Linked DNA regions of Homo sapiens. The protein of the gene in region 1 purifies or fractionates together with the protein of each later gene. This does not show direct contact. Each region holds a gene or a part of one and is shown on either strand. Other genes may lie near its edges.

The links.
Region 2: the proteins of TNRC6A (region 1) and ITGB4 purify together in Homo sapiens (affinity purification with mass spectrometry; one large-scale study listed by BioGRID and IntAct). This does not show direct contact.
Region 3: the proteins of TNRC6A (region 1) and KMT2C purify together in Homo sapiens (affinity purification with mass spectrometry, with the first as the bait; one large-scale study listed by BioGRID). This does not show direct contact.
Region 4: the proteins of TNRC6A (region 1) and CPSF7 purify together in Homo sapiens (affinity purification with mass spectrometry, with the first as the bait; one large-scale study listed by BioGRID). This does not show direct contact.

Annotation. Positions count from the first base shown.
Region 1 is NC_000016.10:24,732,488-24,736,290, forward strand, and holds part of TNRC6A (trinucleotide repeat-containing gene 6A protein), read left to right. Parts: intron 1-3,803.
Region 2 is NC_000017.11:75,741,943-75,745,745, reverse strand, and holds part of ITGB4 (integrin beta-4 isoform 1 precursor), read right to left. Parts: intron 3,406-3,803; coding exon 3,257-3,405; intron 3,165-3,256; coding exon 2,985-3,164; intron 2,034-2,984; coding exon 1,885-2,033; intron 1-1,884. UniProt on the Homo sapiens protein: Integrin alpha-6/beta-4 is a receptor for laminin. Plays a critical structural role in the hemidesmosome of epithelial cells. Is required for the regulation of keratinocyte polarity and motility.
Region 3 is NC_000007.14:152,134,138-152,136,730, reverse strand, and holds the end of KMT2C (histone-lysine N-methyltransferase 2C), read left to right. Parts: 3' UTR 1-1,806; downstream 1,807-2,593. UniProt on the Homo sapiens protein: Histone methyltransferase that catalyzes methyl group transfer from S-adenosyl-L-methionine to the epsilon-amino group of 'Lys-4' of histone H3 (H3K4).
Region 4 is NC_000011.10:61,423,189-61,426,991, reverse strand, and holds part of CPSF7 (cleavage and polyadenylation specificity factor subunit 7), read left to right. Parts: intron 1-3,803.

The DNA of each region.
Region 1 (3,803 bases):
GAGGTAGGTAGTATTGTTATCTCCGTTTTACAGATGGAGAATTTGATGTATAAAGAGGTTAAGTAACTTGGAGGAGACCATATCACTGGTAATTGGAGTAACTTTTTAGGCTTCGAACTTGCAAAATTTGAAAATTTCTTTTGGTAGGCGGGACCCACAGATGCATGCAATACTTCTAGATCAGTTTTTTCATCTGGGCACTTGACATTTTGGACCAGATAATTTATTATTTTGAGGGTTGTTCTGTGCATCACAGGATGTTCAGCATCCGCAGTAGCACTCCCCGTCCAGTTGTGACAATCACCAATGCTTCCAGATATTGCTAGATGTCCCTGGGAGTGGCGCAGAATCGACCCTGGCTGAGAACCACTGCTCTAGATCTTCATTAGGAATTGTAACGTGAAAGCCTCCAAACTTTTAGATGTTGAGTTAATTTAAACATCTTTTGGTCGAGTGCTGTGGCTCACACCTATAATCCCAGCACTTTGGGAGGCCAAGGCAGGTGGATTGCTTGAGGTCAGGAGTTCGAGACCAGCCTGGCCAACATAGTGAAACCTCATTTTTACTAAAAATACAAAAATTAGTTGGGCGTGGTGGCATGCGCCTGTATTCCCAGCTACCCGGGAGGCTGAGTCAGGAGAATTACTTGAACCCTGGGAGCGGAGAGCCGAGATTGTGCCACTGCACTCCAGCCTACTTGACAGAGTGAAACTCTGTCTGAAAAAAGAAAAAAAAATCTTTTAATAACATGGAAGCCTAGACCCTATTATGTAGATCCTCAATTTGGAAGCCCTGGTTTCTGAATGTCAAAGATGTGTTGCCATTCTCCTTTTCCTCTGCTAAGCTGCAAATCCTCAAGACAGTGTGCCTGGTAGCCAGTGCCAGTTAAACAACATTGGCACAAATAATAAATTTAGTTTACTATCATAGGTAAACTGTCTTTTAAAATTCACAGTTGGCCATTAAAATTGTCACATTATGTTAGTATCATGGGAGCCATAATATCTACATGAGGGCGATTACCATTAGAACTGAACTTTGAAGAATGGAATCAGTTTTGAAAGGCAGATAAAAGGGCATTGTAAGAACAACAACAGAAGTAAGGACACAAAAATCCAGAAAGTACAGGAGATTTTGATATTGCAGTGGGTAGTTCAGGTTATATAAGGTATTTGTAGCAAACTGGTTAAGGCCAGATATAGAGGTTCTTGAATGTCAGGTTGAGGAACTTGTGCATAAATTTTTAGGTATGGGAGCTATTGCATGCTTTTTGTTGCGTACTGATGTGATAGAATAATCTTCTGGTCTGGGATTACTAACCAGGTGTATTTATGGGAGAAAACTAGCGATCTAGGCAAGAAGCGATGGAGGCCTGAATTGAAGTGGTGGCAAAAAGAGGTGAGTGAGGCTGGACCCAGTGGCTAACGCCTGTAATCCCAGCACTTTGGGAGGCCAAGGCAGGAGGATTGAGCCCAGGAGTTTGAGACCAGCCTGTGCAACATGATAAGACTCTGCCTCTACAAAAGAATTTTAAAAAATTAGCTGGGTGTGGTGGTGTGCACCTGTAGTCCCAGCTACTTGGGAGGCTGAGGTGGGAGGTTTGCTTGAGCCCAGCAGTTTGAGGCTTCAGTGAGCTGAGTTTGTGCCACTGCATTCCAGCCTGGGAAACAGAGTGCAACCCTGTCTCAAAGCAAAAAGAGAGAGAAAGGAAAAAAAAGATGAGTGTATAAGATACTGAGGAAGTTAAGAATCTGGGATTTGACAGCTGATTAGGTGTCAGAGGAGTCAAAAATACATAGGAATCTTCATCATGGGTGAATGAGAGTTTGACCCAACCTCTGAACAGAACAAGTCAGAGCAGAAATAGGAGTTTGGGGAGAGAAGATGCTAAGTTACATTTTGCAGTTGTAAAAAAAAAATCTACCAGTACTGGTCTAGACCAGTAGAACTCAGCTGGTCTAGTCTGAAAAAATATTTTGGAGGCCAGAATCATAGAATCATTGAATATTTAGAGCTGGACTATGACTTTAGATAGAGATCAGCCAGCATTCTGACTTCTTCATTTCTCAAGTGAGAAAGCTGTGGTTGAAACAGATTCAGTAACTTACGCAAGTTTATATTCTCTGTCAAGTGACCCAGCTGGGATTTAAACAGGCCTTTTGACTCTAATTCTAGTATTCCTCCCATGTGCAGTATTTTATTTTATATTGCACAATAGATAAAATATAATTTTGGTTTCTCCTTTTTTATTCTAAAAGAGTAAAAGCAGTTATCTCAATATGTTATGTTCATTCTAGTGATGACTTTACTATCATGTACTAAATGTGTTTTGTTTAAAGTAGAAGTTAACTTCACGTTATACTGATTTGTCCCCCCATAAACCAACTGTATGTCATCATATAACAAAAGTTGTTAAAAGTGCTATATACCATATAATGTTGCATCTAAACTGGGACACTTATCTGAGATGCTTTTGCGTGGGACAAATGCTATATTAGAAATGACTAGGACTGGCCAGGTGCAGTGGCTCACACGGGTAATCCCAGCACTTTGGGAGACTGAGGCACGTGGATCATTTGAGGTCAGGAATTCAAGACCAGCTTGGCCAACATGGTGAGACCCCGTCTCTACTAAAAGTACAAAAATTAGCTGGGTGTGATGGCATGTGCCTGTAATCCCAGCTACTTGGGAGGCTGAGGCAGGAGAATCTGAACCTGGGAGGTGGAGGTTGCAGTGAGCCGAGATTGTGCCACTGCGCTCCAGCCTGGGCAACAGAGTGAAACTCTGTTTCGAAAGAAAGAAAAGAAATGACTAGGACAGCAGGAGTAAAACCCCAAGGCATTAGGTCTCCGTAGCTAAGGTGGATCCCACTCATGCAATTCATCAACCTTTGTCTGAAAAAAAAGAAAGAAAATCTGATTTTGTTAAGCTTTTCTTTTGCTTTGCTGTGATACGGTTTGCAGGCCAACACATGCATATTGCTATAGGTTGGTGCGAAAGTTAATTGTGGTTTTTGCTCATTTTTAATGTACCAACCCAATATGCTTTTTTTCCAGCTTAATTTGGCAATTAGGTGGTAAATCACTTGATAGGATAAATTAATCACAATCTGTAAACTTAATTTAAAAATGTGTAACAACCCTCTGTGGAAAATTTGAATATAAACATCAAAAGAATACCATTCTGTAAGCTCTTTTGATTTTTGGCATCTGAAATGTCTGAAAGTATAAATTGCAAAACATATTTACAATTTTAATGACAACTGCAAAAGTATTGCCCATGATTGGAAAGACTAAAATGGTATGCGTTATATGTATTCTGTTCAGGCTGATGCATGATAAATCTCTCACTGAAAAAACAGAAATCCCTATCTCATTTTAAAATTTTAAAAAATTGGCCGGGCACAGTGGCTCATGCCTGTAATCCCAGCACTTTGGGAGGCCGAGGTGGGCAGATCACTGGAGGTCAGGAGTTCAACACCAGCCTGACCAACATGGTGAAACCCCATCTTTACTAAAAATACCAAAATTAGCCTGGTGTGGTGGCACATGCCTGTAATCCCAGCTACTTGTGAGGGTGAGGGAGGAGAATCGCTTGAACCTGGGAGGCGAGGGTTGCAGTGAGCCGAAATTGCGCCATTGCACTCCAGCCTAGCCTGGGCACAAAAGCAAAACTCTGTCTCAAATAAATAATCAATCATTCTAACCTTAAGCAAAATTGGAAAAATGTTGCAACTAATACCTGTATCTCTTTACCTAGTTTTAGTGATTATTAATATTTTGCCACATTTGTTCTATCGTGAC
Region 2 (3,803 bases), on another chromosome or scaffold:
CACCATGCCCAGCTAATTTTTGTATTTTTAGTAGAGACAGGGTTTCACCATGTTGGCCAGGCTGGTCTCGAACTCGTGACCTCAGGCGATCCACCTGCCTTGGCCTCCCACAGTGCTAGGATTACAGGCATACGCCACCTCGCCTGGCCTTTATTATTATTATTATTTTTTTAAAATAGAGACAGGGTCTTACTATGTTGCCCAAGCTGGCCTGCAACTCCTGGGCTCAAGTGATCCTCCCACTGTGCCCTCCCACAGTGTTGGGATTACATGCATGAGCTACTGCACTGAGCCAGGTTTTGTTTCTTTGTTTTTTTGTTTGATTTTTAAAAAATTAATTATTATTATTTTTTTAGACAGGGTCTTACTCTGTTGCCTAGGCTGAAGTACAGTGGCATGAACATGGCTCACTGTAGCCTCAACCTCCTGGCCTCAAGTGATCTTCCTGCCTCAGCCTTCCAAGTAGCTGGGTCCACAAGTATGCACTACCATGCCCAGCTAATGTTTAAATTATATGTATAGACATGGTCTCACCACGTTGCCTAGGCTGGTCTTGAACTCCTGGGTTTAAGTGATTCTCCCACCTTAGCCTCCCAAAGTGCTGGGATTACAGGTGTGAGCCACCATGCCCCGCCTTTGTTTTTAATTATGGATTTGTTGCCAACATTTAAAAACTAGAAAGGCCAGGTGCACTGGCTTACACCTGTAATCCCTGCACTTTGGGAAGCCGAGGTGGGCGGATCACTTGAGATCAGGAGTTTAAGACCAGCCTGGCCAACATGGCAAAACCCCATCTCTTCTAAAAATACAAAAACTAGGCCGGGCGTGGTAGCTCACTCCTGTAATCCCAGCACTTTGGGAGGCCGAGGTGGGTGGATCACTTGAGGTCAGGAGTTCAAGACCAGCTTGGGCAACATAGCAAGACCCTGTCTCCCCCAAAAATTAAGAAGCAAAAAATCCCCACACAAAACAAAAGAAACAAAACTATGAAGCCTGTAAACCCAGTCCAGCCTGTGTGCCACCTGATTTGGCTGTACCCCAGCACTGGGGCTCAGCAGTGAAGGTGATGCTGGTCCAGCCATGGCACTCCCTGCCTTGAAGGGTTGCTCCTGCTGCTTGGCAAATTGTGACAGCCCTTGGGGAGTCTGGCCTGGGGACATGGGGTCTTCGATCCCAGCTCAAGAAACCCAAAGCCCCCTGGACTGGGGCATATAGGGGGAGTTTATCTCCAAGAGGTTTGGCTACCCTGTGGATCCTGAGTTGTAGGAGGGGACAGGAATGGTCTGGGCAGGTCCCTGGCCCATGAAGGAAGAAAGAGCCCTCTTGGGCCGGGCGCGGTGGCTCACGCCTGTAATCCCAGCACTTTGGGAGGCCAAGGCGGGCGGATCACCTGAGGTCGGGAGTTCCAGACCAGCCTGACCAACATGGAGAAACCCCGTCTCTACTAAAAACACAAAATTAGACATGCGTGGTGGCACATGCCTGTAATCCCAGCTACTAGGGAGGCTGAGGCAGCAGAATCGCTTGAACCCGAGAGGTGGAGGTTGCGGTGAGCTGAGATTGTGCCATTGCACTCCAGCCTGGGCAACAAGAGCGAAACTCTGTCTCAAAAAAAAAAAAAAAAAAAAAAGAGCGAGCCCTCTTGGCCTGAGTCCCTGGCAGCAATGGAGCCTCATCCAGCGTGTCACTGGCACCCTGGGCAGGTGAGACTCCCCTGCCACAGGGTGGCAGGAGCAGGTGGACGTGTCCTTGGGAGGCCAGCCAGGGGCACGGCCAGTATCCAGGGACTCAAGCAGCTGCCATGTGCTGCTTTGTCTTGGGAACCCAATGCGGTGCCCACGCAGCCCCCCGGGCTGCACCCTCGACCCTGTGGCGCAGCCTCACCCGGTTGCCCTGCGCGGTGCCATCCTGTGTGCGGTAGGAGACCTGGGACTTCCCGCCGTCCAGGACACGCCGGATGACAGGGATGCGGGCCACCTGGTCCCCGCGGCTGACCGAGAACTCAGGCTGCTCAAAGGACACCACGTCTCTGGCTGCAAGGAGCCCGGGCATTTGTCAGAGTGTGCTGGGCCCAGTCCCTTCCCACCTCCTGCTCTCCTGTGACCCTGCCCAGCCCAGCCCAGAATCCAGGAGTCCGCTTGGTTCCCTCTATGCATTGCCCTCTGGGAAGGGCACAGGAGCGAAACGGAAAATCCTTCCAGAAAAAGATGAGGGGCCGGGCGCAGTGGCTTGTGCCTGTAATCCCAGCACTTTGGGAGGCTGAGGCAGGTGGATCACCTGAGGTCAGGAGTTCGAGACCAGCCTGGCCAACATGGCGAAACCCCATCTCTACTAAAGATAGAAAAATTAGCTGGGCGTGGTGGCGAGTGCCTGTAATCCCAGCTACTCGGGAGGCTGAGGCAGGAGAATCACTTCAACCTGGGAGGCAGCGGTTGCAGTGAGCCAAGATGGTGCCATTGCACTCCAGCCTGGGTGGCAGAGCAAGACTCTGTCCCAAGAAAAAAAAAAGTGGTTCTGGAACAAAGTGTCCAGCAGACATCCTGGAAGGGCCAGGCAGAGGAGGGAGGCCAGTCACGGGCAGGACCAGAGATGGAGCCTTCAGCCCCAGGGCTGGAGGAGAGCAGGAACAGGCCTGAGGCCTGTGGCTTCCGGCACAGGTGGGAGGAGGGGTCAGATGTCCACGGTGTGATGCCTTGGCCAACCCTTTTTCTAGATAGAGAGGAGCAAGGGGCTGGCCCTTATGAGGATGCAACAGAAGCTTCCATTTACTGAGCGCTCACCACCAGGCAGGCACTGTGGCGAGGTGAACAGCCACGCATTCCGTAAAAGAGCCCTTACCCATTTTACAGATGGAGAAACCAAGGCTTGCAGAGGTTAAGTGACTAGCCCAGGCCACGTGGCCAGGTCGCAATTCCACTTAAGCAGGAGGAACCAGTGCCCCCGAGCCCCCGTCTGCCTTCCCCACTCTCCCCACCCAGACCCACCTTGCTCCTTGATGATGGTGATGTTTACCAGGCGGCGGCCGAGGGTGGCAGTGCCTGCGGGCACGTCGATGGCCTCCACCAGCAGCTGCTTCTCGTCGTCATCCTCAGGCCGGATAAAGAGGGGCACCCGTACGTCCACCAGCTCCACGCCCTCCTGGAACTCCACCATGCCCCGGGCGTCTGGGTGGGGGTTCGGAGGTGGTCAGAGGTGGGTCACAGGGCCACACAGGCGGGAGGTGCGAGGCAGTGGCACAGCGGACCCGCCCTCCTACCCTGGTCTGCAGTGAGGGTGTAGTAGCCGGGGGCCACCTTGAGGTCGTGGAAGGCCCTCTGTTCCACCTGCTTCTCTGTAAGCTTCAGCAGGGCCGGCTTGGCCGAGCGGGGCGCCATCAGCACTGTGTCCACAATGGTGTGGTCTTGCCTGGGTCGAGGGTGGAAGGTTCAGGCAGCGGAGGGGTCAGGCTGGCACCTGCTGCCCTGTCCCTCCTGCCTGTCTTCTCCCCTTCAGGGGCCAGGATGTAAGACAGCAAGAAGTGCAGGGTCTTCAGAGGCAGGCAGTGCTCCAGGCCTATGCCAGCCCCATACCCTTTACCCTGCAGCCTCAGCCCAGCCATGGCGCCTCCCTGTCCTCAGCGTCCTCCTCTGTGAAATGGGCTTCTCTGCCCACCTCATCAAGGGCTGGACAGCAAAGATGCTAAGGGTGTGTGTGCTCAGGCCAGGCTGCCGCGGCCCTAGCCCTGGTTCTAGTTCTCGATAGCTGGGTAACCTTGGGCAAGTCACTTAACCCTTTTGAGCCTCAGCTTCCTCATCTGCAAAATG
Region 3 (2,593 bases), on another chromosome or scaffold:
TTTATGACTTTTTGAAAAAGCTTCTGGGAGTTCTGATTTCCTCAGTCCTTTAGGTTAAAGCAGCGCCAGGAGGAAGCTGACAGAAGCAGCGTTCCTGAAGTGGCCGAGGTTAAACGGAATCACAGAATGGTCCAGCACTTTTGCTTTTTTTTCTTTTCCTTTTCTTTTTTTTTTGTTTGTTTTTTGTTTTGTTTTTCCCTTGTGGGTGGGTTTCATTGTTTTGGTTTTCTAGTCTCACTAAGGAGAAACTTTTACTGGGGCAAAGAGCCGATGGCTGCCCTGCCCCGGGCAGGGGCCTTCCTATGAATGTAAGACTGAAATCACCAGCGAGGGGGACAGAGAGTGCTGGCCACGGCCTTATTAAAAAGGGGCAGGCCCTCTAACTTCAAAATGTTTTTAAATAAAGTAGACACCACTGAACAAGGAATGTACTGAAATGACTTCCTTAGGGATAGAGCTAAGGGATAATAACTTGCACTAAATACATTTAAATACTTGATTCCATGAGTCAGTTTATTGTAGTTTTTGATTTCTGTAAAATAAGAGAAACTTTTGTATTTATTATTGAATAAGTGAATGAAGCTATTTTTAAATAAAGTTAGAAGAAAGCCAAGCTGCTGCTGTTACCTGCAGAACTAACAAACCCTGTTACTTTGTACAGATATGTAAATATTTTGAGAAAAAATACAGTATAAAAATAGTTATTGACCAAATGCTACCAGGCTCTGCAGCAGCTCGGGGGCTTATAAAATGTTCATAGGGATGTTACAATATAATTTTGTGTTATAAAATATGCCATTATAATTATGTAATAACCAAAATTTCAACCTAGAGTGTTGGGGGTTTTTTGGAAACCGCAGTCTATTAGTACTCAATGGTTTTATACACCTTACTTCTGACAGAGCGGGGCGTATGCTACGACTACAACTTTTATAGCTGTTTTGGTAATTTAAACTAATTTTTTCATATTATATTGTTGCATCCCTACTTCTTCAGTCAGGTTTTTTTGTGCTTACAATTTGTGATAACTGTGAATAACTGCTTAAAAATACACCCAAATGGAGGCTGAATTTTTTCTTCAGCAAAAGTAGTTTTGATTAGAACTTTGTTTCAGCCACAGAGAATCATGTAAACGTAATAGGATCATGTAGCAGAAACTTAAATCTAACCCTTTAGCCTTCTATTTAACACAAAAATTTGAAAAAGTTAAAAAAAAAAAGGAGATGTGATTATGCTTACAGCTGCAGGACTCTGGCAATAGGGTTTTTGGAAGATGTAATTTTAAAATGTGTTTGTATGAACTGTTTGTTTACATTTCTTTAATAAAAAAAACACTGTTTTGTGTTTGCTTGTAGAAACTTAATCAGCATTTTGAACCAGGTTAGCTTTTTATTTTGTACTTAAAATTCTGGTACTGACACTTCACAGGCTAAGTATAAAATGAAGTTTTGTGTGCACAATTCAAGTGGACTGTAAACTGTTGGTATATTCAGTGATGCAGTTCTGAACTTGTATATGGCATGATGTATTTTTATCTTACAGAATAAATCAATTGTATATATTTTTCTCTTGATAAATAGCTGTATGAAATTTGTTTCCTGAATATTTTTCTTCTCTTGTACAATATCCTGACATCCTACCAGTATTTGTCCTACCGGGTTTTTGTTGTTTTCTGTTCTGTATAATAGTATCTAATGTTGGCAAAAATTGAATTTTTTGAAGTATACAGAGTGTTATGGGTTTTGGAATTTGTGGACACAGATTTAGAAGATCACCATTTACAAATAAAATATTTTACATCTATAAGAGCTGCCTAGAGCTTCTGTGTTAACTCCTCATATTCAAATTTGAGCTCTTAAATTGAGGATTGTCTGAAGTTCACTGACCATCTGATAGATCTTTCACAATTAGAGTGTTGATGCGATCAACTTGGTTTTCTTAGATTTTCAAATAAGTTTAGATGTAAATTCATAATTCATTCTAATTATGATACTTTTTCCTTCCCTTCGACTGAATAAAGAAGGGAACTTCTGTATCTTTTTAGGGTGTTTACCAAATTTAGAATATCCTTGGTGCCTTGTTCAAAGCCTGTTTTTGTTTAATTGGTAAATTTAGTCTTGGTTATGTTGCTGTTTTTTTTTTTTTTTTTTTTTTTTTGAGGCAGCTTTTCAGACTTTATTCTATGTGGTAGACTTTCTTTCTATCTTATTGAATTATTTAACGTATTAAATATAAAGGGGTTAAGAAAAAAACTGCTCAGAATCCCCTTTAGTTTCTAGGACAGATTTTTAACTGGGACTTCGCTAACACTAAAATAGCCAGCATTCCTAGTCCACCATGGAGCTTGCCTTCTAGTGAGGGGCACGGACAAAAACAGGTGACTTTTTTAGATGGGAGGTGGGCTGGGAGTCCCGTGGGGGCATTCTAAGGAGGCAGCATTTAAGCAAGACCTGAAGGATGAAGAGGAGCTGGGAGCGTGGCAGAGGCTTGCCTGGCAGAGGGGACAACTCATACAGGAGCCTTGAGATCTGAAAGAGGCTGATGCTGCCAGTAACTGAAAGGCAGGTGTGGCTGGGACAGAGTGGCAGGAGGT
Region 4 (3,803 bases), on another chromosome or scaffold:
CAGTGGCACCATCTTGGCTCGCTGCAACCTCCTTTTCCCAGGTTCAAATGATTCTCCTGCCTCAGCCTCCTGAGTAGATGGGACTACAGGCGCGCGCACCGCCATGCCCAGCTAATTTTTGTATTTTTAGTAGAGACGGGGTTTCACCATGTTGGCCAGGATGGTCTCAATCTCTTGACCTTGTGATCTGCCCACCTCGGCCTCCCAAAGTGCTGGGATTACAGGCGTGAGCCGCCGTACCCAGCCACCTTTGTTATTAATGAAAAGCTTTTCCCCTTCTAATTTCTTATCTGTGGATTGATAATAGTGCCATTCATTTCACTTTGAGAAATACGCAGAACTCATTGTCCAGTGGTCACTGCTTTGTTAGAGTATAAGTTATTGGCCTCAATAGTTTGTTCTCTGGTCTCCTCAGTTAAAAAGGACTTTTTTATGGGTCTAAGACAGGCTAAAGGTAGTATGTGGACTTTAATAGATACATATATCCAACGGGCAATATTTGACACTAGGCAAGCTGAAGAAAGTGTGAATTTTGAATATCTTATGTTTTGTGGAAGGTGAGGGATGAGTGCTTCCCCCCCACACACATATCAATTAGTTATTTTTGACAAAGTTAGTGTTAGTGTCATCTGGAAGCTACAGAAATTATTTAAAAAACAAAAAAACAAAAAAACTTTGGCTAGAATTGTTAGAAGCTGGCTTAGTCTGAAGGCACCCAGTACAAATTGTGTTTTAGAATGTTTTAAGAATGTTACTGATTTCGCCCCAAGCTGGCCCATGCACAGGAAGCCCTTCATGTGCACTTTGCTCCTCAAGGAAAATTAATATTTTTCCTAGATGGAACCCTATGGTGCTTATTCCCTGATCTCTTAGAGCATTTGCTGCAAAAGCCTGTTTTTGCCAGAGCTACTTTATTCCTGTAACACAGGGAGTCCTGGGATTCACATTGGCTCTCTTGGGCCAGGGAGAACTCTGGAAAGGTGACTGAGATCAGTTGCTCTGCTGGGAGTTTTGGCTTTTCATACTGAGACAGGCTTTGCACAGTGTCCAGTTCTCTTCCTTATGTCCATCAATAAGTATTTATTTATTGAGCTACTTGTGTTTGCTAAGCACTGTGCCAGGACTAGTGAGGTAAAAGGAAAAAAAAGTGGGTCCCTGTACTCAAAACAGATTCCACTCCTGGTGGGTAGGGGTGGTGGACAACGACAATGTACAGTGAAGGACAAGGAGGGTGTGAAGTGGGAACTGTGGAAATGGTCATTATAAAGCCAAAATTTTTGATTAAGCCTTGGTTACAATTAAAAGAAACAATGGTATCAAGTTGGTTGCTCTGAGAAAAATAAATCCTAGGCTAGTTACTTCCCTCAGTGGGATATGAGGAAGAAGAGGGTGGAGGTTAGGAACACTGAGCAGACAAGTGGAGAAGATCTTATTTAAATTGAAAATCACACATGTTCTCTTTTGTTTACAGGGAAGCAGGAAGTTTCATGAGACAGTCACAGTTCTTTCTGTGCCATTAAACACAAAATTCTTTGAGATAGTTATTCAGTATTAAATATATGTTTCATGTTTAATCTCCCTGGAATGAAACTTTGAACATCAGTGCATGTAAAATGTACTTTTCACTTAATTTGTAGAATTTGATTTTACTTTAATCTATTACTGCATAAATCCGCTGAGAAAAATCTCCGGCCCTTAACTGTGTTTCTGTCTTACTAGCTGAACAAGTAAAATGAATTGTGATGCTGGGGGATTAAAATCCAAACAATTTGATACCTTGTTTCTTCAGTAGAACCCTCAACAGACCTGCCCTGTGCAGTTCCCACCAGCTTCTTTGAACTGAGGCTCTGTGGCCCAGAGAGACCATTTAAATCTTGTGATAATTTTGTATTCATTCAATCCTTTTGTTTCTAAAAGTGGTAGCCATACCAAGATTCTCCAGGATCTAGTCTATCCTATTCTTAAGGGATCTTAAAACAGTGGATTGGTTGCCTAAGCATATAGTACGAAGGGTTTCCTGGTGATGCATTTGGTCTCTGAGCTGTCCAAATCTGCATGTTAGTCCACTACTCAATTTTCAGTGATCATTTTTACATTACAAATTTTAGACACATATACCTGAATTACAGATACTGCATGGAAGGGAATCTCAGTTTGGTTCCATTCGATTATCCAAGATGATGTGTTTCCTTATTCTGTTTACGTGTCATTTGAAAATCCTTGATTTAAAAAAAAAGAAGGCTGGGTGCAGTGGCTTACGCCTGTAATCCCAGCACTTTGAGAGGCTGAGGTGGGAGGATCACCTGAGGTCCGGAGTTAGAGACCAGCCTGGCCAACATGGTGAAACCCCATCTCTACTAAAAATACAAAAATTAGCTGGGTGTGGTGGTGCACACCTGTAATTCCAGCTGCTCGGGAGGCTGAGGCAGGAGAATCACTTGAACCCAGGAGGCGGAGGTTGCAGTGAGCCAAGATTGCGCCACTGCACTTCAACCTGGGTGACAAAGTGAGACTCTATCTCAGAAAAAAAGAAGAATCTTGGTGTGAAGTAGTGCTTTCTAAGGATTTGAGCATTGGATGGGATCAAGTGATGTATATAAATCCTTTCTCTACCTTGAACCACAGGAGCAACTCACCATACCTGGTACATGAATAGAAGAGTGATTTGTCTATAGAGTTGGGATAGTTTGAGACGTAACAGCTATGAAATATTTTATAGTGATTACTTACACACAAAATGTTTTCCCACTCATTAGCCCTAGCTGACCTCACCTTACTTTATTATCCACCCTGTCCTCTCCAGTGTTAGCTTCTCTCCTCATTCTTTACATGCTGACCCTTTTTATGCACAATCCTTTTTGATGGATTTGACTACATGGAACAAGCTTCCTGTGCTTATTTGCCTCACTAATTTCTTGTTGTTAAGTTGCCCCCTAAAAGTTTACTGTCTCTTGATATTCTTTTTCTAACGTTTTTACAAGGGTTAAGCCCTCCTGGTGGGTTTCTTAGAGTGTTTTAATATTTGAAATTATTTATATGCTTTAGGAAGTAGAATCCTTCCCCCTTCTCTATCAGAACAACCCAAGATTATTCTCTTAGTGTGCATTTTCTTCCACTGTACTTCAGATAAACTGAAAAACTGAAAGATTGTTTCCAAAGGTTCTTATAATACAAGGACTGGTCTAAGAGTAAATTTTTTAGTGAGTCGTCTTCAGATCACTTCAGAATTAGCAGTTATTGCCGTGATATTGGAGGGAGAAAGTTAAGGGAGCCGCCTGTCTTTAGTTGCCTTGGAGAAACTGTTTCTTCAGGGTACTAGACAAGTTTCCCAACTTAGGTGCCTCCTTTATTCCCTTTTTAAAAGAATAGCAATATGAAACTGCCGTAGCATCCTTAAAACACTGAACTACTTGCTGTCTCTGTCATTTTGGCAGCATTATCTTTAGCATTGTTTGAATGTTTTGTCTAATTCTTGTAATAAAAATAAAATGCTTGTCTAATCCTTAAAAAGATTTCTCTGAGGCTAGGCACGGTGGCTCACGCCTGTAATCCTAGCACTTTGGGAGGCCGAGGTGGGCAGATCACGAGATGAAGGGTTTGAGACCAGCCTGACCAACATGGTGAAACCCCATCTCTACTAAAAATACAAAAATTAGCTGGGCATGGTGGTGTGTGCCTGTAATCCCAGCTACTCAGGAGGCTGAGGCAGGAGAATCACTTGAACCCAAGAGGCAGAGGTTGCAGTGAGCTGAGATGGCGCCACTGCACTCCAGCCTGGGCAATGGAGCAAGACTGTGTCTCAA